Linked DNA regions of Homo sapiens: regions 1 and 2 are each linked to region 3. The links come from fine-mapping of genetic effects on gene expression. A gene starts in region 3. Each other region holds a variant in brackets. All regions are shown on one strand. Distances are between the middles of the regions.

Region 1 (8,189 bases), 110 kb after region 3:
AAATTATTTCCTCCTGTTTCTATGGAGAGAAGGAAAAAATGATTTCAGAATGTTATCAGATTGTTTCAAACTATTTATCACATTAAACAATTTGTTCAGGCGGAATAAACATTGATTTCAACAGATGTAAAGGAAGTAGTTATAATATTCTGCTTGTTCAACATGTTAAACATCTATTTTTTTAAACGAAGAACATTTAAAGAATTTCATAGAGATTTTTATTTTGTCCCTTTTTCCAAAGAAGACTTAGAGAAAATTTCAGCTACTTGGCAATTGACAAAAATGTTTAGAGAATGACCACAATCACCCAGATTCACTTTGAGTAGTGTTTAAGCTACAAGACACTATGACTCAGTGATCAGAGGCAAATCTCTTAAACTGTTAGTCTCTTCATATTTATTTTTCCAAACATGTAATTATGATTACCATGATATTATCAGTAAAGTCCATCATAGTCCTTGGAAGTAGTGTACTACTTATATGACTTATGATAATTCTTTCTTCAAATGATAACATCCATTTGTAGTTTTTAAGAATAACTGTTCACCGTCCCTAAATGAGTTGCTATCATTACCCCTAAAACATAGAGTTGAAGTCATCCCTACAGTTTTGAGGGGATATAATAAATACAATATTGACATGGTGTGCTCCTATTCTTAAAGAATTTTATTAACTCATTGCAAACTTTATTGAGATGGTGAATTCAAATGAATACCTATACTTTAGCAGTTTAATCCCCAATGAAGATTATTTTATAACATGGAAATATTAAATATTAATATATATAAATTAATATAACAAGGAAATATTAATTTTCTTTAAGCTATGAGTAAATGACCATGACCAGATTGTCCCAAGACACCACTCATTCTAAGTTTGTGAGGTCATTATAAAGGACACATGTGAAATGAAGACAATGTTTACAGTTGTTGGCCCATGGCCCACTTACATGGATACACTTCTTCAGTAGTGTAGAATGAATGTCCTGGTTTGATCTGCCCATGCTGGGTTAAACAGGGTCCAAATGAGGAAGCAGTGCAAGGTCCATCCACAACTCAAGAATGGTTTTGTATAGCAAATGGAAAGAAGAAGATACTTTGATGAATTGTGTTTGTTTCTTCTTGAGTTTAGTGGGATATTGGAGCATTTCAAGACTAGTTCTCAAGTTGTAAGGATCCATTTCCACAGGGATGATATACCAGGTTAAATAGTGTCACCTCAAAATTCTTATCTACCTGGACCCTGTGAATTTAACCTTATTTGGAGATAGAGTCTTTGCAGATGAATCAATTGTAGTGAGGTCATATTGGATTAGAGCGGCCCCCAGTCCAATATGACTTGTGTCCTTATAAGAAGAGAGAAATTGAGGCACACACACCAGGTGGGGATTTGAGAGGCAGCCACAGAAGATAGAAAAGAGGCCAGCAGCACGCTCTTCACTGAGCCTCCAGACACCCTGCTGATATTTCAATTTCAGATTTTTGGCCTCCAGACTATGGGAGAAAAAATTTTGGTGGTTTTAACTCACCCTGTTTCTGGTAATTAGTTTGCGCAGCCCTTGGAAACTATACAGGTGATAACTGGGTCTGATAGTGAATTGGTTCACTAATGGGGCAAGAAAATATTCATAAAAATGGAGGGGTACAATCAGACCCTGGTGTGCTGTGCCAACACTTGGTGGGTGGAAGCCCAAAAGAGGTAAGAAAACAAAAGCAGAGAAGTACCAGAAATAACTCAAACAAGCTCTACTTTTCAAAAAAAGAGAGCTTCATCAGTGTCATATATAATGGAAATAATGAGGAGAATGAGACCTAGAGAAAGGGAGCTGGCAGGATATAGATTATCAGACACTTTTGAGAAAACATTTTAAAAGAGCAGCATCTCTCAATCTTGAGTGTGCATAAGAATGACACACAGACCTTTTTAAAAATGCAAGTCCCAGAGCGACCTCTGTGGATAGTAATTCTATAGATCTAGTGTTTTGTCTGGGATTCTGCATTTTGACAGGCACTCCAGGTGATTCTGAGGCAGAAGCTTCTGGCACTTCAATTTGTGAAACGCTAATGCAATGGTGAAGTCAGGGTGAATCAGGGTTTGTGGAACCAGAAACTAATACTATTTAGGGACTTTAAGCAAAAGAATAGGAATAAAATGAATATTTATTGAGTGAGAAAAGGAATAACAAATTATACATTGAAAAGTACAATTGTCTTCCACTTTAAAGACATTTTGAAGTTTCTGCCAATTTTATTTCTTTTGGTTAACAGGTTTGGCTTCCACTGGGATACTTCTTTAGAATATATTTGATGTTTTATATGAATAATTCTGAAAATGTACAAAATTAATTTGAAATTAAGGCATGCGCAGGAGCTATTCAAATGTACTTAAAATTACAACCACATTATATTCAGCAACATAATTCTGAATAAATTACTCTTATGCCACCACTGGATTACTTCCTAATGCAATATGTGCAGGAGCTTTGTCACTGGAATACTTGTTTCTTCAGGCAATTTATCTGTGTTGGTGGCAATCTGTGGGCAGCATTGAGTACAACATCTAGTCTTTAATAAGGATAAAGTGCATCAGATATCCTGAGATACTATCCAATAATTTGGGATGCATAAAACATGTTAATTCAAGCAGACATATTAGTATTCATTGCACTGCTATAGATGTGTGCCCCACGAATGGGGATTCTGATTAATTTCATTCATTATGATCTCCATTAAAAGGAAGAAATACATAATGTTCCTTAAATTGTATGTGTCATGTTGATCAAGCATTTGTTGATAAAGGAGAAATTTATTTTGACTAAGCATCAATGAGAAGGGAATGTTCCATTTGTAACTTTCTACTGATTAGTTTCTGGCTCTGAACCTTCCAAATCTTGATTCTCCTCCATTTCAACACAATTCTGGTGTCAGTTGCTCTATTACAATACAACTTCTGACCCTGCAACTTCATGTCATGTCGCCAATTTTACTAAAACATATGTCTATGTGAACACATTGCCAGGGCCACTTCCAGGGCCTCAGCTAGTAGACTCCTTTATGGGAGGGCCCCTGAAGCTTAAGCTTCCTTAGCTTAATGGAAAATCTAATACTGAACAGCAGGAACAGAAACTGGCCTGCAGGGAGTAAAGGAGGGCCCAGTGGATAGGCAATGAAGTTCCTGCAGGGGCCTGAGGAGTTAATCCAGGAAGAAATGAGCTATGGAATGGTGGTTATGAAGAGTGGTAGGGTCCTAAGAAAAGGTTCTATTTGTGGAGTTGACCTGTTATGTTTGGGGACATGAATATACAGAGAAAGAGAGAGAGAATGAGAGAGAGGAGGAGAAGGAAGATAAACAGGTGGAGGAGAAAGAGGAGAAGAGAAGACAAAAAGGAAGAGAATTAGAATAGCAGTGTTAAAATGTTCAGTCACAGACCCTGGGCTTTTTGCTTTCTCTTCCCACTTTCTTGGAGTTGGTCTACATTCCTGAAGGCTTTGTCCTTGTATTGGGAGAGGGTATTCTCTATCCTCTTGGGCTTTCCCTACAGAACATCTTCTGCCAGCACTTGGATGTCAGTCTGCATCTGAGGCCACTGCCAATGCTTTGTCCCACTTTGGCCTTTGGGCGTTGCACCCTTACCCTCTTCATTTTTCTGCTCTTAGCCATAAATCTGTCCCACATTTCTCTTGTAAAAACCTCTGAGACAGCAAGGAAAGGATTAGAGGATAGGCACAGGAGCATGCTGAGTTAAAAATGGGGTACATAATAAGCTTAAGCAGATTATCCTAATATAGATACTTTCCCGGGAAAGCAGAACATTAATGCTCTGCTCTCTAAAGCCTATTAAATAAACATACATATTATTTAATGACCCTGATTTTTGCCATTGTAAGTTTTAACACATAAATTCTTTATCAAAATTAATCATGAAAGACTGCATTGTAAATAGATTTTCTTTGGCTATTGAGGAGCTAGGTCTTTTAAGAGATTTTGGAACCTGTTGCCTAAAAATAACAACACAATTCAAAGTGCCCACATTTGGCTGTGTTCATATGCTGCCAAAAAAATTCGGAAGAAAAGTGAAAAGTTCACCCATTCATTTGGATATTTCCAAGTATCCAGATGTTTGGCATCATCCAGACTAAATGTTAGGTGACTAATTGATTGGGTTGCTCATGTTCCACATGTTTGGCATTGTATGGATAGATTCTGATTATGCTCTCAGACAGGGAAGTA[C/T]AATGTGTTTTACATGCTCACATGGGACCCCAAAGCTAATGGTGTCAAATGAATTTTTCCTGTTTGACCCCCATGGGTCAAACTCAGTTCAGTTTCACTTGTATTTTTCATTCCTACAAAAATGCAGGTGCAGCTATTTTATTGCCATTAAATCTCATAAAGCACTGAAAGATTTGAATGAGAAAAACAATTCTGTTCCAGCAGAAAGCATTTCATCCTAAGGAATAAAATTTTCCTCTCTTTATTCCAGCAAATGAACAATAAAAAGTATATGAAATCATAGTATCACTGAGTCTTAGAATAAACATCAAAACTTGAATAATTTTTTTAAAAAGATGGAACTAAGAGATGGAATTTTATAAAAACAAACTTTCAGTTAGATGGTATCTAAACAAACTTTATTATTTTAACACATAAAGATTTAAAAGAGTTAAGAATATGGCTAGGTGATTTTAACTATATATAGTGACTCCTTGAGTTCTGTTTGCCTAGAGTTAATTTTTTGTCAAGTACTTCCTGGCTGGGCTGGGCTACTTATTTTTTATTGATTGTGTGTTCTAAGTGGAGCTATAATAGAAAACTAAGAAAATAGATCAATTTAGGGACCAGAGAGCTACCACAGAAGAGCTATTCGCATTAATTTAAGAGACTTGGGCCTGTGAGCATTTCCTTCAATACATCTAATGACTTAATTCAACAAATATTGTCTGAGCTGTTTTCATTTGAAGAGCCTATTTTCCTTAGTGCCTTGGGACATGTAGAGTTGAACAGGGTAAAAATCGTTCATTCCAGCTGATGGTAAGTTAGAGACTATTGGGCAGAAGCAAGCAATTTTATAAAAATACACTGTAGGGAAGAAATGGTACCTACCAAATAGACATTAATGATCAACTGTCAATACTTCAAGACATTGAGACCTGTAGGAGTTACTAACATATTCTTTAGAAAAATGAATAGAAATTAGGAATAATTTAAGGAACTTAATCCTTCTTGCTTCTGTTTGACACAGAAACCACTAAGAAGAGGGTAAAACAAAAATTGGGAATGAGAATCCTAGAATTTTTTTTATACTTGAATGATTTCAAAAGATATGCCAGCATTTAAACAAGCCTTTAAGAATCTAGTAGATTAGAAAGCATTTGAGTGATGAAGTGACAAGGACGTAAGTTGAAATCAATACAAATACAAAACCTGATGAATTGTTTCATTCAGAAGAGATCAAATTATTAAAAGATCAAGTGCAAAGGGAAAAGTTTATAGATATTAATGTGTTCTGATAAACTAAGAACCAGACAGTACATGAAAGCTTAGCTTTAGGGTGGATGACATTGCAAGTGATATGTAATTAAGGCAATAAGTTACGGCAAATGAGTAAATAACATTTCTAAGATTGATCCTCAGTTGTGGGCTGAAACAAATTGATGTAGCACAGTAAGCATGACTTCAAGAATATTTTAGGATAGGTGTGGTGGCTTATGCCTATAATCCCAGCACTTTGGGAGGCCATGGTAGAAGGATTGCTTGAGCCTAGGAATTTGAGACCAGCCTTAGGAACATAGGGAGACCCCATATGTATTAAAAAAATAAAAAAATAAATTAGCGGGATGTGGTATTGTGCACTTGTGGTCCCAGCTACTCAGAAGGGTGATATATGAGGATTGCTGCTTGAGCCCGGGAGTTCTAGGCTGCGGTGAGCTATGATTACACCACTGCACTCCAGCTTGGGTGACAGAGCGAGACCCTGTCTCAAAAAAAAAAACAAAAATAGTATTTTAACAGAGGTGCTACACAATATGCTGGAATGTGTCCAAAGTGGATCAAAGGATTCTTGCTGCAGGAAAGTGCATTCTGCTATGGAAAGTTTTAATAAAGCAGAGGTTGTTCCTCTGCTTTATTAAACTGTCTAATAAGCACACATCTAATTTAATAGAAATAAGTGTAAGACATATGTAGCTTTGGAGAGAAACTGTCTAATTTAATAGAAATAAGTAAGACATAGGTAGAGAAACTAAACATATGTAGAAATTGGAATATCAACCTTAAAATGGTTACTACCACAATTACAAGAAAGCAATTCAGTAATTGTAATAGTAATCAAAACTTCTGTGTATTGTAGTCATTTATGCAAATAGAGTTGGCTGTATATAAGCACAAATCAATACAAATGACTACATGATGGCGGGATTTATTTAGTAGAGGCCAAATTACTGAAATATCTAGCATAAAGGGAAAAAATCCATAAATACGTATGTACCTGCTATATCAAGAGAAATGCTATGAAACAACTAAAGGAAATGTGGAGGAAATATTTAGTTCTAATATGTTTAACAATACCATCCCAAGAGAGAATAAATGAAGGTGCTGCTGGTGCCTGAGTGGGATTTTAAAGGACAAATCTGGGTTTCCAGAAGGAAAGAGAAAAGACATGGAGACTTTTATCAACAAAACAGGTTTGGGTGAGGCATGCTAGAACCCCAAAGTGTGGAATGATTAGTCAAAGTAGAAAAAACTGGCACTCATAGTTGGCAGACAGTCCAAAATACAGTGCCAATAGGGGAGTGTCAAATTCCGGGTTAATTTAAGCTACTTCAATTCATGGTGACTTGATAAGTTGTAGCATTATAGCAGAGGGATCCAGGCTGCAGTAAAATTCAAAGTCAGTGGGGAACAGGGTCATATTTTAGTGGTTTGCTTGGTTTTCTGTAAGACCCTAAGCAACAGCAATTGAAATAAGAACAATGTGCAACCCTAAGGGAGGAGCAATTGGAAGGGGCTAGGAAGGCTGGCTGGCAAAAGCCCAATGAAGCAAGTTTGTTTTCAAGGAATAGTGTGGAAACTGAAAAACATATGGTTGTCCCTGCGTCCATCTAGACACCCTGAATGCTGGTTTTATAACAGCATACTACATTTTGTGCACACTTCCAGATGGAGCCCCTAATATGCTGTCTTGGCAGGATGCCTTTGAGTTGGGCCTGGATGTGATTGTATATGCTAAGAGTATTGCTAGAGATAAGAATAACTCCGTCAGACAAAGACTGAGGGGGAATGGACAGTCATGCCATATTTAGGGAAAGGGATATTAATTTCATATTCAAACCTAAATACCTGCCTACTGTCATCTTAAATTGTAAGTATCTTCCAAGATACTTACAATTTAAGATATCACCTTTTAAATTTAATTGTAAATAAGTATCTTAAATTTAAAACATCTAAACTTAAGCTGTCGGCCAGGCATGGTGGCTCATGCCTGTAATCCTAGCACTTTGGGAGGCCAAGGCGGGTAGATTGCTTGAGCTCAGGAGTTCGAGACCAGCCTGGGCAACATGGTGAAAGCCCACCTCTACTAAAATACAACAAGTTAGCTGGGCGTGGTAGCGTGCTCCTGTAGTCCCAGTTACTTGGGAGGCTGAGGCAGGAGAATTGCTTAAACCCGGGAGACGGAGGTTGCAGTGAGCTGAGATAGCACCACTTGCACTCCAGCCTGGGTGACAGAGCGAGACTCCTCTCCAAAAATAAATAAATAAAAATAAAAAAAAATAAACCTAAGCCGTGCTATTCTGCCTGAAACTAGTTCCTCCCTATCTTTATTTCAGGTAGGCGCACCCACTTGCTCAAGCCAGAAGTTTAGGAGTCATTCTTGATACACCTGCTTCCCTTACCCCTTTCATGCAATCTCTCGCCAAGCCTTATAAATTTTACCTACAAAGTACTGCTGGTCTCCCTTCCCTTCCACCTCCACTGCCCCACAGAGTTCAAGCCACCAAGTTCTCTGGACTAGATGATAGCCTGATAGGTTCTCCACTTCTCCTTCTCATCTTTCCCCAACACAGTCTCCATCGAGCAGCTTGATCATTTAAAATTGTAAGTCTGGTCAAATTACTCATCTGCTTAAAATAACCTCAAGCCTCCAATTGCTCTTAGCATAGCATTAAAATTCCCCACTATGGCTTCTGATGCTC
Region 2 (8,189 bases), 53 kb before region 3:
TATATCCTTGGATAGGCCCAGTGTGGCAGCAGGAAAACAAATTCACCAAAAATCTCTTGATGTGACCCCATAAGAGTAAGAGCTCCACCTGCACAGAGTTTACTAGCGTTGGGCACCGTTCCAAACACTTAACACACACCAATTCATTAAGCACTCATTCTAACCCTGTGAGGAGGTGCCACTAACTATCATGCCCATTTTACAGATGGGGAAACTAAGGCTTGGAGAGGTGAAACCGGTTGCTCAAGGCCACTTAAAGTGACAGAACCAAGATCTCAAGTTGCACAGCTGAACGAACCACTACCCCATCATGCAGAAATATTTCAAAATAATTCCCTAAATTTCTCTGAGTAAAAACCAGGCTGTCATGTTAAAGATTTTATAGGCATGCTTTGCCTTTTCTGCCTTCTGTAATACTTGGTGATGCAGCTCACATTCACTTCTTTGATTTCTGGCAACCATAACTGAATTAGAGTTGACTTACCACTTCTCCTTCCAGGACCAGACTGACCATAAAGAGGGGAGGGCACTTTATCAGAGCTGAAACTATGAGACTATGCCAGGCTTGGACCACTGCCTGTGAGATATTTCTGGCAAAAATAGGATAGTCTGGACCCAACTTTTGGAAGACAAAGACACCGGGGGCCAATTGACACCAACCTCCCACTCAAGAGCCAGCAGCCCCTAGGTTGGGCATGGGGTGTCTCTTTTGTAGAGCGCAGACCAGGGTCCCCCTTCACTGCAGGAAAGGGCTGCCTTCATCTCAGCCCCGACTTCCAAAACACAATGCAGGCGTCACTCTGGTCTGTCCTTGGGGGCTGGTGGTGGGGGAAAATCCTGCACACCTGAGGGAACTCCTCTGAATGTGGGAGGCAGGAGCATGAATGGCCACAAGGGCAATTATGTGAATGTGCTCTACAGCTAGGGCCTGGGGACTTCTCTGTAGCCTGATTTCTTCTCATTGAAGATAAAGTTCCCCACGTGCCACCTGCCCTCAGCTCCTGCTCTTTCTGCACTTCTCTCAAGCAGCTGAGTAATAAAACTGATAAATCAAACCTACCTTATTCACCTCTCGAGCTTCATTTCTAAGTGAAGCATTTGAACACTGTCCAGGTAGACCAGAGACAAGCCAAGACAAAGTCGGCCACGGTGAGGAAACAGGGCCAAAAGCAGGCCCGGATGTCCCTGTCCTGATTCACGTACTACCAAGACAAAGCAAGTCAAAATGAGCACTAGGCACAAATTCTACAACAATCTCTCTTCTCACAAGAATTCTTCCTCTTCCTCAGAACAAATTTCTTTTTTGGTGATGCTCCCACACATTGTCTGAACCTCCACGTAGCTATTATTTAACTTCAAGCTGCATTGCTAGTTGTTTACATATTCATCTGTCTCTTGGTTATAAATTTCCTGAAGGATAGAGTCCGTATCTTTTTCATTTTGGTTTCTCCCAAGGCACCAAAATGTGTACTTGCTTTACACAGAGCAGGCATTTGGAAAATGCTGGTTCAAATGATCACAACATTTACTCTAACATGAAATATTTAGTGTCCACTTTCTACTTTAAATTTATTGACTCTTTAAATTTTCACAATGGTCCTCTGAGTAGCTATTGCTGTTCTTTTCCCATTTTGCTGATGAGGGAGCCTGAGACGTGGAACAGTTAGGCCATCTGCCCAACTCACAGCATTGGCAGGGCCAGGGTCTAAACGACTGTCTGGTGGCACAGAGTGTGTGCTTTACCACTAACCACACATGCTGCTTCTCTGTGCCCTGGACCTACATAAGTTTGAATGACAATAGCACTTTAGCAGGGAAGAAACAAATGAGAGCTCCTAATCCTCCATGCTTTTGCCCTTGCAGGTCCCTCTGCTTGGAAAGCTTTTCTCCCCTTTCTATTTCTAGAAACTCCTACTGGTTTCCTTCAGGCCCTGCTCAAGACTCAAGTCTCTAGAAGGTCTCTTGGTTCCTCTAAGTGATTAGGGACCCTCTGCTGGGCTCATGTATACATTGATGATATAGTCACCCATGTGACTATATGTGTGTGTGTGTATATAGTTCTATATGTGTGTACATATAGTTCTTTGCTATATCACAGCTCTCATCACCTCATATATTATACGCTGGCTTTCTCAATTTCTCAGCCCAGAACACTCTGAGGACGAACACTGTCTTTTCACAATACTTGGCATGAAAATATTTAACAATTGTTGGCTGTAACAGTTTATTTAGCACCTACTAAGTGCTACTCACTGTGCCAAGGGCACTCACATATACTTGATCTCATTTAATTCTCCTAAACTCCTGTGAGCTGAGTACCAAATCATCCCATTTTCTGGGTAAGAAATCTAAGGCTTAACAGATCTCATAGACAACACTTGAATAAAATCTCCCCCCTCAGCTCAGTTTAATAAGGTCCCAGAGTCTTTCTGGCATTCTTGGCCCTAAACAGAGGGCAGGGCTAGTATCCTGAGGAAAAGCAGGATATTCTCTTGCAGCTTGCCTGCAGATGGGTCTCTCGGGTTCTTGCTCCTAGGCCTTGATCTGAAACCTGTTCAAGGAGTGGGTACAGTCCCCAGGTCATGAGTCAAGAAAACCTCCAAAACTGCAACTCATTGGTTTTAGCTCAAACCACTCAGGCGTTGCGTGTGTGTTTTACCCGAGTCCTGTGAAATCACTATCACTAACCACAAAGGACTTTCAGTTACGAATAATCACCATTTCCACGAAAGGGAACAACCTGGTATGTAGCAATCTCAGTAAGGACACACACACACACACACACACACACGGAGTATTGGGCTAATAGATGAACTATCAGAAACCCGATTAAATCTTAGCCTAATACTGCCTATTCTAAATCTCCAAGGAAGAATATTAACTCAAAGGAGATAAATCAAAACCAAGTATTTGGAGTGCCTATAATGTCTTGGTAACTGTGCTGGGTCCCGTGCAAGGTATAGAAAACAGAGTTATTTTTATTAGCTATATAGTATATACTAATAAGCATAAAGTAAGCCACTGACATCTAAAAATGACCTATTCATAATTATCGCTTTCTTTCCCAGAGTGGTATAAGCAAACATTTTATTCTGGGTACAAACCCAAAGTTAGTTCTCATTAAAAATGATCCTAACTTGCTTTAGATTTATGCTTAACTATTGGGAAAAATATTTTATAGCAACTCTATCTGGCTTTAAAGTTCACTAGTTCAGTATTTATTCAGGCTTCTAAAAGTTATTTAGAATTTAAGTGAGCAGAATATCATATTAATCATAGTGATGCAATGAATGGGGAAAGGAGGAACAGAAAACTCAAAGGAAAAAAGTTCTTCAAAATGTCATGAGAAAATCCAGTTATGCAAAGCCTATTTTAAATTCTTAAAGGTCTTTATAGCTGCTTGATTCAGGGCCTGCAAATATATCAGCTTGCCTAAAAATTTCATTTTTTTCTACCAAGAAATCCCTCTTCCCTTTCTCAACTTAAGATATAATTGACAAATAAATATTGTATATATTTATAGCGTATAACGTGATGCTTTGATATATGGATACACTGCAGAATTATTAAATCAAGCTAATAAATATATCCAAGAAATCCCTTCTTAACCTCCATGGCTTGAAAACTTAAAACTTTTACATCTCTGGCTAACTCGAAGTCCACGTATAGACAGAAAGTATAAGGCATAAGCCAATGCAAGCTATGATTTTGCAGGAGAAATTGATACCTGAAGAGTTCAGGACATAAACAATTTTATATTTTGACTCATTTGTTCATCATTTAGTAAAAATATTTTTATCTTTACATATTTTCATGTTTGATGAACAGTAAAAAAAACTGCTGGTGGACTACAGCAGAACATTCATATAACTAGTATTTTCTTAACAGAAAAATCAGACTGCCCAACAGAGACTCTTGTACTTCATCAAACACACCCAACACCTGGCTGTTTCTTTGCAGGAGCAGGGTTGATCAGACTCCGACGGGCAAGGAGTCCTCTCAAGCAGGGACTTGCCATCACCAAAGATTTGCAGCTGGACTGCACTCCCGACCAGCTTTGGAGACTATGTAGATTCTCTATTACAAACCAGAGAGGGACGTCAAACAGAGTAAACATGTGACAAGTTCCAGCAGGGACCAAGGAACATAAAGATACAGATGGTACCACAGAACATAACACAAAACAGACCCTCAGCTCCCCTTGCTCTTGTTCTCAAGCTGCATCCAAGTGTGCTTCGCGGGACTCTTAACTCACTCACTGTTCTTTGCCCTACCGACTCCATGCAGTTAAAATGCCTAGTAATGTCCTCCCAGAGGTACAGCCCCAGACCACTGCATTTGGGGCCTGAAATTAGTCATTGCAAAGTTTTCACACTGCTTAACTGGTAAGACAAATATCTTCATGTCAGCCATGTGCTCATTCTTTTGCTCCATTTTGCACACAACTAATAAAAACTGGAAAATGCCTTTTCTAAGGCAAAGAAAGTTATAGATGTGAATTTCATTCTTTTATATAAACGTAGTCAGAGTCAACATGAAGAGTTAAAGCTTTGATAGTGTGTGGCTATCTAGATAGTGTGATGACTACTCTTATTACCCCTTAAATAAAAAGTACTTGCTAATTTGATTTTAGATGATGAAATTATATAGAGAAATTACATTTATAACAACAATTGAACCTTGTCTAGCATTTTGTCTTAATAGTAGCACAAAAATAATTCTCTGCTTCTTTCCA[C/A]ACACAGGTCATCATCTCTGCCTCTTCTTTAGAGATTTCTCTATTCCAGCCCCCTCTACTCACTTTCCTAATAATTGCTGTTATAAATGCCAGTGCCAATCTCCAATTTTGATGTATTCATATCCTCGGGAAGCTGCTAAGTGCTCAAGGCTTCAAAGTACTGTTCTTACTTGAAACTCATGTTATCTTTTTATCTATCACCTTGAATGTCCACACATCAGATTCACTATCTTTCTCCCCATAATGTCTCCATCAGCCTTTATGGTGCCACTTATGCTCTTAGCTAATTGTACTCACATCCTTAGAACGTTAACTCCCTTGTATACAGCTGGTTGTTGTATACAAGATGGGTTTTCCTTTACAAATTTCAAGGGTGCAGTTCTTTATTGCCTAGATGCATTTATTCATGTCCTTTATGATCTCATCCCCAACTTCTGCTGCTTGCAATCTACCTTGAGCACTGTAGCTAAAATCACTCTCCTCACATGTTGTTTTGCTCCTGTTAATAACTTCCTCGGCACTCTGAAACGGTTTCCACTTGTGTGTTGCATAATACCCTGGTTAGTGCTTTTCAGATCCTTTAATAGTCAGGCACCCCTTATCTAATTGTCCTCTTCTCTTGCCATGACTCAGCTGTACTCGACGGCACTGCAACGCAAAATCCAGGTGGGTTTGTTGTAAGACTTTTCAAAAGAGGATGAAGCTACAGGGTACAAATCTGACAGTAGGGCTGTAGCTAATATCTCCACCACTTTCCTAACTTTCCTACAACAGCATTCATTTTCAGAAATATGAGTAGTCATACCACTGCTGTTCTCCACAAATTTATTACCTTTCTGGATGTTTTTCCTGGTGGTAGAATGAAGGCACGAGAGACCTGTGTGCATATGAAAGATCCTTGTTTTCAGGTTCTACTACTGGCAATGGGAGCCATTACGAAACATCAACCCAGAATATCAGGAGAAGATTAAACAGGCTATGAAGCTAAAATTAAGACCTATTACAAAAAGCCACGAAGACGACACTGCCCACAAATAATGAACACTGGTGACCTTTACTGCCTTTGAGGGGGTTTTTTTCTCCTCGGGCTGTACATCATTAGATGGGGTCTTCTCCCACCTGGTAAAATTTCGATCCACTGTGAACAAATCTTCCCTTAGCTTCCCTTTAAAATGTTGCCGAAGGACCAACTTCTTTACGAAGTCATTCCAGAGCAACTCTTCCTGGCACCAGACACACTAATCATACCGGGACCTTCTTTATTCACCTCGTCTTTCTAATATTTCTCCCTTTTTCTCATTATTCAGTATTTCTTTAGGGTGTTAAGTGTAGCCTAAAGCTGCCTCCTTACATATTTTACATTCAGCCTAAAGGTTTCTCTGCACACCACGAACTATAACCTAAATGGAGTTGTATACAGATTGTAGCTTACTCTTGTGTCAATCACTGAGTTTTGGGCCAATCAAAGGGGGTCAACGATTCGAGCCGTGTTCAAATAAGGCAAATGACGAGCTGTAGCCAATCAGCTGTTTCTGTACCTCACTTTCCTTCTTCTGTCTATAACCCTTCTTCAACTACACAGCTGCACTGGAATCTCTGTACCCACTCTGGCTCGGGTGGCTGCCTGATGTGCGAATTGTTCTTTGCTCAATTAAACTCTGTTAAATTTGGCTAAAGTTTTTCTTTTAACCACAGCCACATATGCATATTTACATAGACACTGTTTATGGGGAGCGGGGTGCCTGTCTGAGGCTTGTTTTGTTTTTTCCCTTTGTTGGTGTATGCCTTCTATTTCCCTTGAAGTATCTTTAACATGTTGTCATTGGGTGCTGAATACAGTGGCACATCTTTAACTGTTACAAATATAGCAACTGTAATTTAAAGAAAACTTTTAAACAATAAAGTTTTGTAGCTGAACTTTTAACACCACAAAAGTGATTCATTACTAAAAAGTTTAAAGAAAAAAAGAAAAGAAAACCTTCAATATGTTCTTCTCGCCCTCGTTTTCACTTACGGAATTAAACAGTAGTGACTACTTACTCTAGAATCACATTTTCATAGTTCCAACAATGGGCTGAAAGTTACTCTGATCTAGCGAAGAGTTAGAATAATTTTTCAAAATGCTTTTACTGTCAAATTCACACAGTACCATGAAAAACAACAAAAACAAAATATCACTAGGCTATAGGCCAAGTAAAAGTCTTTGGAACTGCTTTATAAACAAGTCAATCCACTCCTTTGTTAATTCCTAGAAGACTAGCCATTTTGACGTTTATATAAACTATGAAACCTTCATGGAATGTGGCAGAGCACTAATAAACAAATACGGGACTGACTGAATTGCTTCGTGTTATTTTTTTAACTACCTCCCATGTACATGCATTTTCTCTAATTGACTCTAAGCTTGTGTGTGCGTTGTGGGGGGCGGAGGGGGTCAGGCCCACGCTTTTTCCTCCATTCACATCTAGCACAGTACTAAGTGTGTAAGTATTGATAATACTTCTGATATAAACAAGAATAACTGGTAAGTGAGTTGTGTGCGTGGAATGTTTACTGCTACTTCAAAATGGTTTTAATTTTGGTTAGAGGGTCCTAACTATAATCTTGTTCCGAAGTATACAGGATGACATTTTCCCTTTTATACCATCTTCTGATTGAGGAAAAATCTGGAGTTGGAAAAGTAAAATGTCAATGTTGTCTCACTACATTTACTAACTGAATAATTTCTATAAGAAGCATTGGTATTGTTATGTGAAGTCAGGTTCAAAAACAGGCGAAAGGAGAGGAATTCACAAAAGAGTAGAGATCCAAACTCAGGTTTTCTGTGACAATCTGGTCAAGTTTTCCACTTCCTCACCCGTTTCATTGATAAGAAAGAGAGACCCAGAAAGATTACTTGTTTCATATGTACTTGTTTCATATGAATGATGGAGCCTTACTGGCCCCCCGCCCCATTTCCCCAACCAGCCGTATACCGGGAATGAATCACTACATTTTCTAATTGAATAATTTATCACCCATATACTGGGAATGAATGAACCTTTTTCATTAACCTTAATAGGGGTATTAGAGTATCATCCACACAACATCTCAGACTTGCCTCTGTTCCTAACCCACTACTTGCAGTCCATCAAGTCCTGCTAATTTTATCCCTTTTGTCTCTGCCACCCTGCCCTCAACCAGGGTCTTTTATCACCTCCTCCACAGACCAGGCCTCCGGTCCTGGCCCCACTTAAATTCTTTCTCCATGAAGCAGGCAGACCATCCATTCAAAGGCAGATGGCTCCCTTCTCAAATGCCTTTGAAGACTCCCCAAAGCCAAAAGCAGAAAATGCAGCTCCCAAACCTTGGGAATTTTGTTTCTTATCATATCCTCCCGATGCACTTTCCAAATTTTAGTGTGCCCAAGAATAACCTGAGAAGTCTGTAACAAATGCAAGTTTCTGGACCTTAT
Region 3 (8,189 bases):
CAATAAGGTGGCTGTATTTTTCTCCAAAGTCCACCTCAGGCTGGTTAAAGTTTGCAAGTCCACAACTTTCTCTCTTTGGTTTAAGGCTAGCATAGTGTAGTAGAAGCTAATACTTGACTAGTAATCAGAAAATGTGTGTCTGAGATGTAGTTCTGTCACCGGCTCCAGGATTTTGGACTAGTATTTCACTTACTAAACCTCATTTCTTTAGCTATAACTGTAGTGGAAGCTCTTCTAATTTAGGGATGGTAGCTACCTCACAGGCTATCATGAAGATCAAATGAGATTGTAAGAAAGCCATTTGCGATCTTTAGATGCAGACGTTCTACTTTATACCTTTTCTTTATAAAGTATTAATATTGAACATCAGTGCAGTCATCAGTTCATCAGTGTTTACTAGTTCATGGTTTTGCTGCTGGGAATATGTGCTAGAGAAAGTGCTCAGTGTTTGATAGTGGGCAGATTGACCTGTGCATATCCATGTTCTTCCTAAGGATAGTGAAGAGAATGAAAAAATAATAAGCATAGTGGGTGTCTCGGAAATGGAGAAGGAAGCAAAAGCTGATTAGGAAAGTAAAAGGTACCGAAAGCAAATTAGTATGCAAATTTACTCATTCACAAATTTACCCAGGGTTCTCTTTCTCCTCATCAAAACAATTTATTAAATACTAAATAAGATAGATACATTCAATGGTATAGTAGTAAATATTTAACAACCAACTTTCTGGGAAAAAGTTAAACATGATAGCATTTACCGATTTCTGTAAATAGTTCTACCATGGCCAATTTCAAGTCACTAACATGACATCACTGAACAGAGAGGAAGAGATATGCAAGTAGCACATCCTTATATACTGTTTGCCTTGTATGGATATGATAGACACAAATAAACTCAGGAGTATAGATAATAATACACATAATTAGGAAGTGATGAGTTTTAAGTATTTGCTAGTTTTATTTTTAAAATTATTTATCTATTTATTTATTTTTGAGATGGAGTCTGTCGCCCAGGCTGGAGTGCAGTGGCGTGATCTTGGCTTACTGTAAGCTGCGCCTCCCGGGTTCACACCACTCTCCTGCCTCAGCCTCCCGAGTAGCTGGGACTACAGGCACTCGCCACCACGCCTGGCTAATTTTTTAGTAGAGACAGGGTTTCACCGTGTTAGCCAGGATGGTCTTGATCTCCTGACCTCGTGATCCGCCCACCTCAGCCTCCTGAAGTGCTGGGATTACAGGCATGAGCCACCGTGCCCGGCGGAAATAATTCATTTAAATGCAACTCAGTTTGATTTAATTTTGATTAATAGCTGAGTTGAACATCCACTTTGCAAATTCCTGAAAATTTAACAATCAGCTATCATGAGCCAGTGGGGGCACCACCCTGGATATAATGGTAATTGTGTTAGTATGGTACTAGTTATGGTAAAGATTATCACCTCTTCTGGGAAGCCTATCTGTGTTAGGTGCCTTTCTCTATATTCCTACTATAACTTTCTAGATGTCACAGCAAGTACCACACTGTGTTGGGATCTCATTTCTCTGCCTTCACACTTGATTTCCCTAAGGCCAGTGACTGTGACTGACTTTGAACTCTGTATCTTCTCTATCTAGCACTTAAGGCTCAAAAAATGTATATTGAAAACAAATTTACCTGGACCTGGCTCCTGTCCTCAAGGAGCCCACAATGATCATGTCTATGATCTACAAAAACCATAGACACAGAATACACAGTGTAGTAGGAGCTCTGAATAAACATGTGAAAGGATAATAAGGTTTTTATATTACCAACAGTGGCTTTTATTGGGATGGGAAAAAAGTGATTATAGATCATTGGAAGTAGATGTAGCAGTTCTATTGTGATAAAACAAACACATTTTTCCTTATGTCATCTATTTAATGATATTCTTTTAGTGTTCACACCTTTAACAGGTAAAAGCAACACACATTCATTATAAAACAATTAGAGTATACAGAATCATAAAGAAATAAAAGCCACCTATATTTTACAAGATTGATGTATTGATGAGGATAGGTTAAGACAATAGCATCCAGAAAGCACCAAATAACAGTGCCTTACACAAGATCCTTTTTTTCCTTTTCAAGTAAAAGTTTGGAGGTTTGCAGACCCAAGTTGGTGTGGGTTCTGCTCCTCAGTGTCTTTAGAAGCTCAATTTTCCCCAAGTTCATGGCCCAGCTGTTCCTAAGGCGTGGCCCCATTCTTCATGGTCCAGGTCAGAATCCATCCTCTCTGAAGCAGGATGGAGGATGGGATGAAGAAGAGGCACAGGGCTAATTGTCTCTTTAAGAAAGATTCCCAGCACTTGCCCTGTGGCACATCCATGACTTTCCCCTTGTTAGAAGATAGTTAGGAGACCATGTTTTGCTGCAATAGAGCCTAGGAAATACAGTCTTTATTCTCAGCAGTCATGTGCTCAGCTAAAATTTCTATTACCACGGAAGAAGGGAAAAATAGGTAGGATCAACTGTCAGAATTTGTCAGAATTATTTCCTTAAATTGCAAATAGAGGAATTTCTAGGTTAGAAGTTATGCCCATTTTCACGATTCTTGAAGCATATTGATACATTTGCCTTCAGAAGTTCTGTGCATGTTTACACTCCCAATGAGATCTATGAATGCTTTGTACTAAACACCAAGTAATCAAGTCATTCAGTGTTTCTTCTATGGCTTTGCTGTGGGCAGGATGTGATGGAGAAAAGTGTTGTGTTTGAGGGACCAGGGCTTTATTGTCAGGACTTTTTCAGCTGCAGGTGACACATGGCTTATCACGAGTACTGGAATTTATTCAAATATTTAGGATGATTTAGTATTAAGGTTGGTGCAAAAGTAAGCGTGGTGTTTGCTATTGAAGGTAATGGAATAGAAAACTAGGAATCTGAAGGTGGATAATTAAAAAATGAAGTTCTGAAGAGGAATGGGAGAGGAGGATTATATGGGTAGTTGTAAAAATTTTGAGACCTACAGAGAGAGGATGAAATGTAATATAATGCCCTCCTAATGTCAGTGAAGGGGCTTTTACACATATGTTTTTATCAATGGCTACATTCCAGGCAATACCCTAGGTGCTTTATATATATCCTTTCTTGAATTCCCACAGCCATCTGGGTAGGCATATAATTTTTATGTATCCATTTTTTACACACAATGAAGTCAAAGCTCAAGAAAGCTCAAGTTAGGGTAGAGCTAGAATTTAAACCCCACTCTGTCCGATTTCAAAGTTTTCCTCTTTCCGCTCTTACTCTTAAGTGTGAACTGATAAAAACAATTTTGGCAAGGAATTCACCTTTTCTATAGCACTTGAATTAACTGAAGGATATAAAAGACATTATGAAATCTTAAAAAATTATGAAAGAATTACAGAGAGTAACAAATGAAGTACTGTAAAGGCAAGGAAGAACCTCATGAGATTTTGTCTTTTCCAGGGGCCCTTCTCTGACCTGGGTTGGCTGCCTGCCCCTCCTTTCTCATAGTACTCTGTGTTCACCCTAAGACAGTTCTCATCTTTATTGTGATTGTCTATTTCCTTGGTCGTCTCTACTGCCAGATTATATCTTGAGTGTTAGATATTAGATTTCACACATCTTTATATTACCAGGAGCCAGCACAATGTCTGGAACAGTGTAGGTGCTCAATAAATATTTGCCAGATAAATTATACAGGCATTTATTCTATGGTCATATTTATACATATTACTGAAAGAGATTTTTAAAATCAACTTACTATATGATGCCAAATTTTTAAAGACATACAATAATAACTAGACTAATATAAAATTATGATTCTGACTATGGTTATAACAGAATGTTTATAAGACAACTGAACCTGTGACTAAGACTGAGTGCCTACAACGTGACAGGGTGTTCTGAGTGTTTAACATTTTATTATTAATTTTTCACAAAAATCTTATGAGGGAAACAATAAAATTATTATTCTTACTTAGAAAATGGAAAAACCAGGATATGAACTTAGGCAGTACTGTTGTAGAATTTTTGTGTTTAACAACTAGGCTATTTTATATCGCCATTGTTTATTAGCTGTTTATGACAAAAACAGTTTTTTTGCATGACTCCATAGTGGTATTTTTTTTTCTTTTACAAAGCACAGTTTAATTATCAAAATCAAGTACTTACTGTTTATACAAGACTATTCTCTAATCTACAGCAGTTAGTCAAATTTGTGGAATTAGTCCACTAATGTCATAGTAGCATCTTCTAATGAAAGCTCATAGATCCTTTTCCTGTTGCTTTGCTTGTCGACCGGAACTTCCTTTCCAACAAAGGAACAGGCTCCAAGAGCAACCCTCAGTATCTTGGGAAATTGCTGCTTTTATACCTGAGCAACCTCCAAACCGAAGAGTAATTTGCTATCATCATTCTTCCTTACTGCCCTTCATAACCAGGGTCTCATATTTTTTATTTTTTCTTCTAAAAAAAAAAACAAACCCAAAAAACAACCGTTCAATTGCACCTCCCAGGTGCACTCCCAGGCTTGCCAGGGGCTTTCCAGTCGCAGACCCCGCGTGTTCGCAGACTCTGCCGCCGGCGAAACTACATTTCCCAGCGGGCCGCGCGCCCTCCTTCCGGCAGGTACCCCTCAAAACCCGGAAACGCCTTGCGGGGCAGTGTGGGAGGGAGAAGTCCAGGGCGGACAGGCTGGGCGCACCCGTGCTCGCGCACCCCAAGATGGCTGAGAGGCAGGAAGAGCAGAGAGGGAGCCCGCCCTTGAGGGCGGAAGGCAAGGCCGACGCGGAGGTTAAGCTCATTCTGTACCATTGGACGCATTCCTTCAGCTCTCAAAAGGTACAACAGGCCTTGGCGGCGGAGGGTGGCGCGGATCGGGCTTCAGCACTGGGACAGCTCCTTCTGAGTCCCGCCCAGGGAAGCCGGTCCACCTAGAAATCCGCCTCCAGTGTCCTGACCCCGGGCAGGCGCTCCCTCCAGGCGGGGACGCGCCCGGGTGGGGAGCGGGGAGAATCGATCGGAGATGATCCTATGTGGCTATGGCCCAGGCTCCGCCTCTCGCGAAATGCGACAAAAAAGCATCATTTTCAGTATTTGGTCTGGAGGCCTTGCCTGCTGGTCTTCGGAGAGAGGCAGAGGGAGGTGCCTTTGTGGACCCTCATAATCTGCGATCTCTTCTTTTGCTCTCTCGCATTCACTGTCTTCAGCAAGAGCTGATGTACCTACATGTCAGGTTCTTGTCTGGGGAGGACCCATAATCAGGTTTAGGACACCGAGAAAGTGGTAGTGATGAGGAGGGTGACTGTTTAATGAATACAGTCAGAATCATTTCATTACTTATTTTGTGTTCTTCTCTTAATTTGTTGAGTATTGTTCTTTCCTTACTTGTTAATTCCAGGAATAGGAATTGTTAAAACGACTGTTGAAAATGTCGGTAACACAGGGAAGCCCAGAAAGGCTGCTTAGCGGTGTCCAGGGAAGTCATTTAATTGAAAGCTTACATGTGTTGTAGTAACCAGTGTGAACTCTTCCAGGTGCGCTTGGTAATTGCTGAAAAGGCATTGAAGTGCGAGGAACATGATGTAAGTCTGCCCTTGAGTGAGCACAATGAGCCTTGGTTTATGCGTTTGAACTCAACTGGAGAAGTGCCTGTCCTTATCCACGGGGAAAACATAATTTGTGAGGCCACTCAGATCATTGATTATCTTGAACAGACTTTCCTGGATGGTAATGTTAAGGCTACTTGCGATTTCTTGGATTTACTTTCAACACAACTATGTGTTCCCTTTCTCTTTTTCTCTCTCTCCTCTCTCTCTTTCTCTTGTGTCATGATGGTGGTTTGGGATTAAAAACCTTTTCCATTTCCATAAGCACACAAATATCAAATAGGTCAATAACAAATTTTGTATAGGCTAGTGTAATGCTATTTAAAATAATTTAATGCAAAATACAAATGTTAATGTTGAAACTTAAAAAAATTCACTTGCAAAAAACTGCAAATGTGTGGTTTGTGTTGGTGATTTCTTAGTCTTAAATTCATAATATTCTAAATGTGCACTGTGACGATTTCATCTAATATACCAAATGGTTTCACCTTAAAAACAAGAGGGAAAAAAGAGCAATAAATCTTAAAGGAGAATAGAATGTTAGTATACCTGAGTTCTTTGCCCCAGTCACTTCTGAATTGTTTGAATTTTATATCTTTACTAAGGAATTATAGGGCTTAAATTTGTATAGTGCATTTAGGTAAATCATTTATTAACAGCTTGTTATGTGTCAGACATTTTATAATTTCTTCAATAATGTCTTCAAAAGTATCTGTCTGAGACAGGCATGGTAGACAAGTTATTCCCATTATGTAAATGAGGAGAAAGCAACAGGGTTGCCCAAAGTAATATAGCTATTGTATGGCAGAGTCTTTGGTCTCCAAAGCCTTCATACTACACTGACTGTCTCCCATAATCCTTGCCACTTACACATTGTCTTGCTTGTTCCTAATAATAATCCTTTGAAGTGAACTGTAGCTTCAAAGAGTTACCAAAGACTACACAGCTGATCACAATGGACATTGATGAGAGCAGAACATGGTGCTCAGAGCTTCCAGCTGAATGCTCTTCTAAAAAGGCTGTATGAGATTGTTACTTTTCATCTGCCACCAGTTATGTTGATGTTAATAGGGTAGGTGAAAGCAGAACCTAGCCCCAAACTACAGGAAGCTGACAAAGGAAATTACTAGGACAAAAAAAAGTCTCATGTACTTAGAAGGAAAATGAGTATTATTAGGCCTAGATGGTGGGCAGTGGCGAGGGGGAAGCCCAGGGAATTAGATTAGCAATGGGCTACCCCTGTTCTTAATCTAAGTGCTAGTCCCCTAGGATTGTGATTGGCGGTTTTAATTAAAGGTAGCTTTAGCGTAAACCAAAGCATTTAATGATGTACTTTCTTTTCATCTTTATTTGCTATTCCTTATAAATTTATATGCTGGGGACTGTACTGAAAATGACAACTAGTTCATTTAAGAGAATTTTTCTCAATCTTGAGCTTTTTGGAAATGGATAAGTGTGTTAATTTGTATTTCTTGGGGGATGTAATTATAATGGAACAAAACAAAATAATTGTGTTAATAAATCTATTTTAAATGATCAAAAACTTTAAAAAGGTATTCTAAATGGAAAATCCCATTTAAGTTTTTTGGTAGCATTGCCTGAACTGCTTCTACTATCATCATTCCCCTCCTCCATCCCCTCCTTACACTGTTTTTCCTCTAAGAAATTCAGTGATATAAATTATATTTACAACATAGTAATGTTACCAATTATTAGGTTTTCTTACAATTTTCCTTAGTCTTTCTCTTTTGCTTTTAGTACAGAATAGTAACAAAGCAGAAATAAGTTCTGTGTCCTGCTAAGTTGTATTTAAATAACCAAACAAAGGAAATGCTAAGTTCTTTTGATTACTTAAGAATTAGAAGAGAAGGCACTGTAGGCTGTGACAGGATGGAAATATGGAAAGTGCAGACTTTAATTCTGGTTGAACTATTATTGTAACTCAGCAATCAAGAGTCCTAGCTTTTAGTCTGATGCTGCCACTAACTTGTTGAATATCTTTCAATCAATTGGGAAGGACGAAAAAACGATTAAGGGACCCAAAACTTATGGTAGATAGGACGACAGCAAGAGAACAATAGTTTATATAAATCAAGGCTAAGTTATATAAATCGAGGTCAAGAAGAAGTTTATCTCAGAGTACTGAAATTTTAAAAACAGCGTTATCACAATTATAATTAAGATGCTTTATCTTTAAGAACTCATGGAGAATGAAAGTCAGACAAGATAGACAAACATCCTATTGTCAAAGACGGGGAAAAGTGAATTCTACCAACCCTTGCTACTAATTGTATGTTCCATTCATCAGCAGCATTGGTGTCACCTGGGAGCTTGTTAGAACTGCAGAACCTTAGAGCTCTCTGCAGACCTATCAAATTAGAATCTTTGTTTTAACAAGAGCCCCATGTGATTCGTATGTACATTAAAGTTTGAGAATACTGCTATAAATTAGTGTTTAGTTAAGTAAGCACTGGTGTAAATTACTGTCTTTAAATCTGGTGGAAATTTAGAATAGATTGTGAATAGTTATTTAAATATGTTAAAATTTTTGTGTATCTCAGTGAAAGGAACCAATTTAAGTTTTACACTGCTGGAGAATGTCCC

Evidence for each region.
Region 1: its variant is fine-mapped to the expression of GDAP1 in fetal neocortex (Walker 2019, PIP 0.95).
Region 2: its variant is fine-mapped to the expression of GDAP1 in blood mononuclear cells (TOPMed, PIP above 0.99).

Annotation. Positions count from the first base shown.
Region 1 is chr8:74,457,483-74,465,671 of GRCh38, forward strand. It overlaps a transcript of GDAP1 not described here. Among named protein-coding and RNA genes, the nearest start is that of MIR5681A, 87 kb to the right of the region's middle. The variant C/T (reference allele first, on the strand shown) is at 4,231.
Region 2 is chr8:74,293,255-74,301,443 of GRCh38, forward strand. All of the region lies in intron 2 of JPH1 (junctophilin 1), which reads right to left. Among named protein-coding and RNA genes, the nearest start is that of JPH1, 24 kb to the right of the region's middle. RefSeq lists a silencer at 2,504-2,643 and an enhancer at 7,814-8,189. The variant C/A (reference allele first, on the strand shown) is at 4,736.
Region 3 is chr8:74,345,761-74,353,949 of GRCh38, forward strand. It overlaps GDAP1 (ganglioside induced differentiation associated protein 1), which reads left to right and starts at 4,643. Exons shown (of 6, transcript NM_018972.4): 1 at 4,643-4,818; 2 at 5,514-5,706. The coding sequence starts at 4,702. RefSeq lists an enhancer at 4,656-4,885.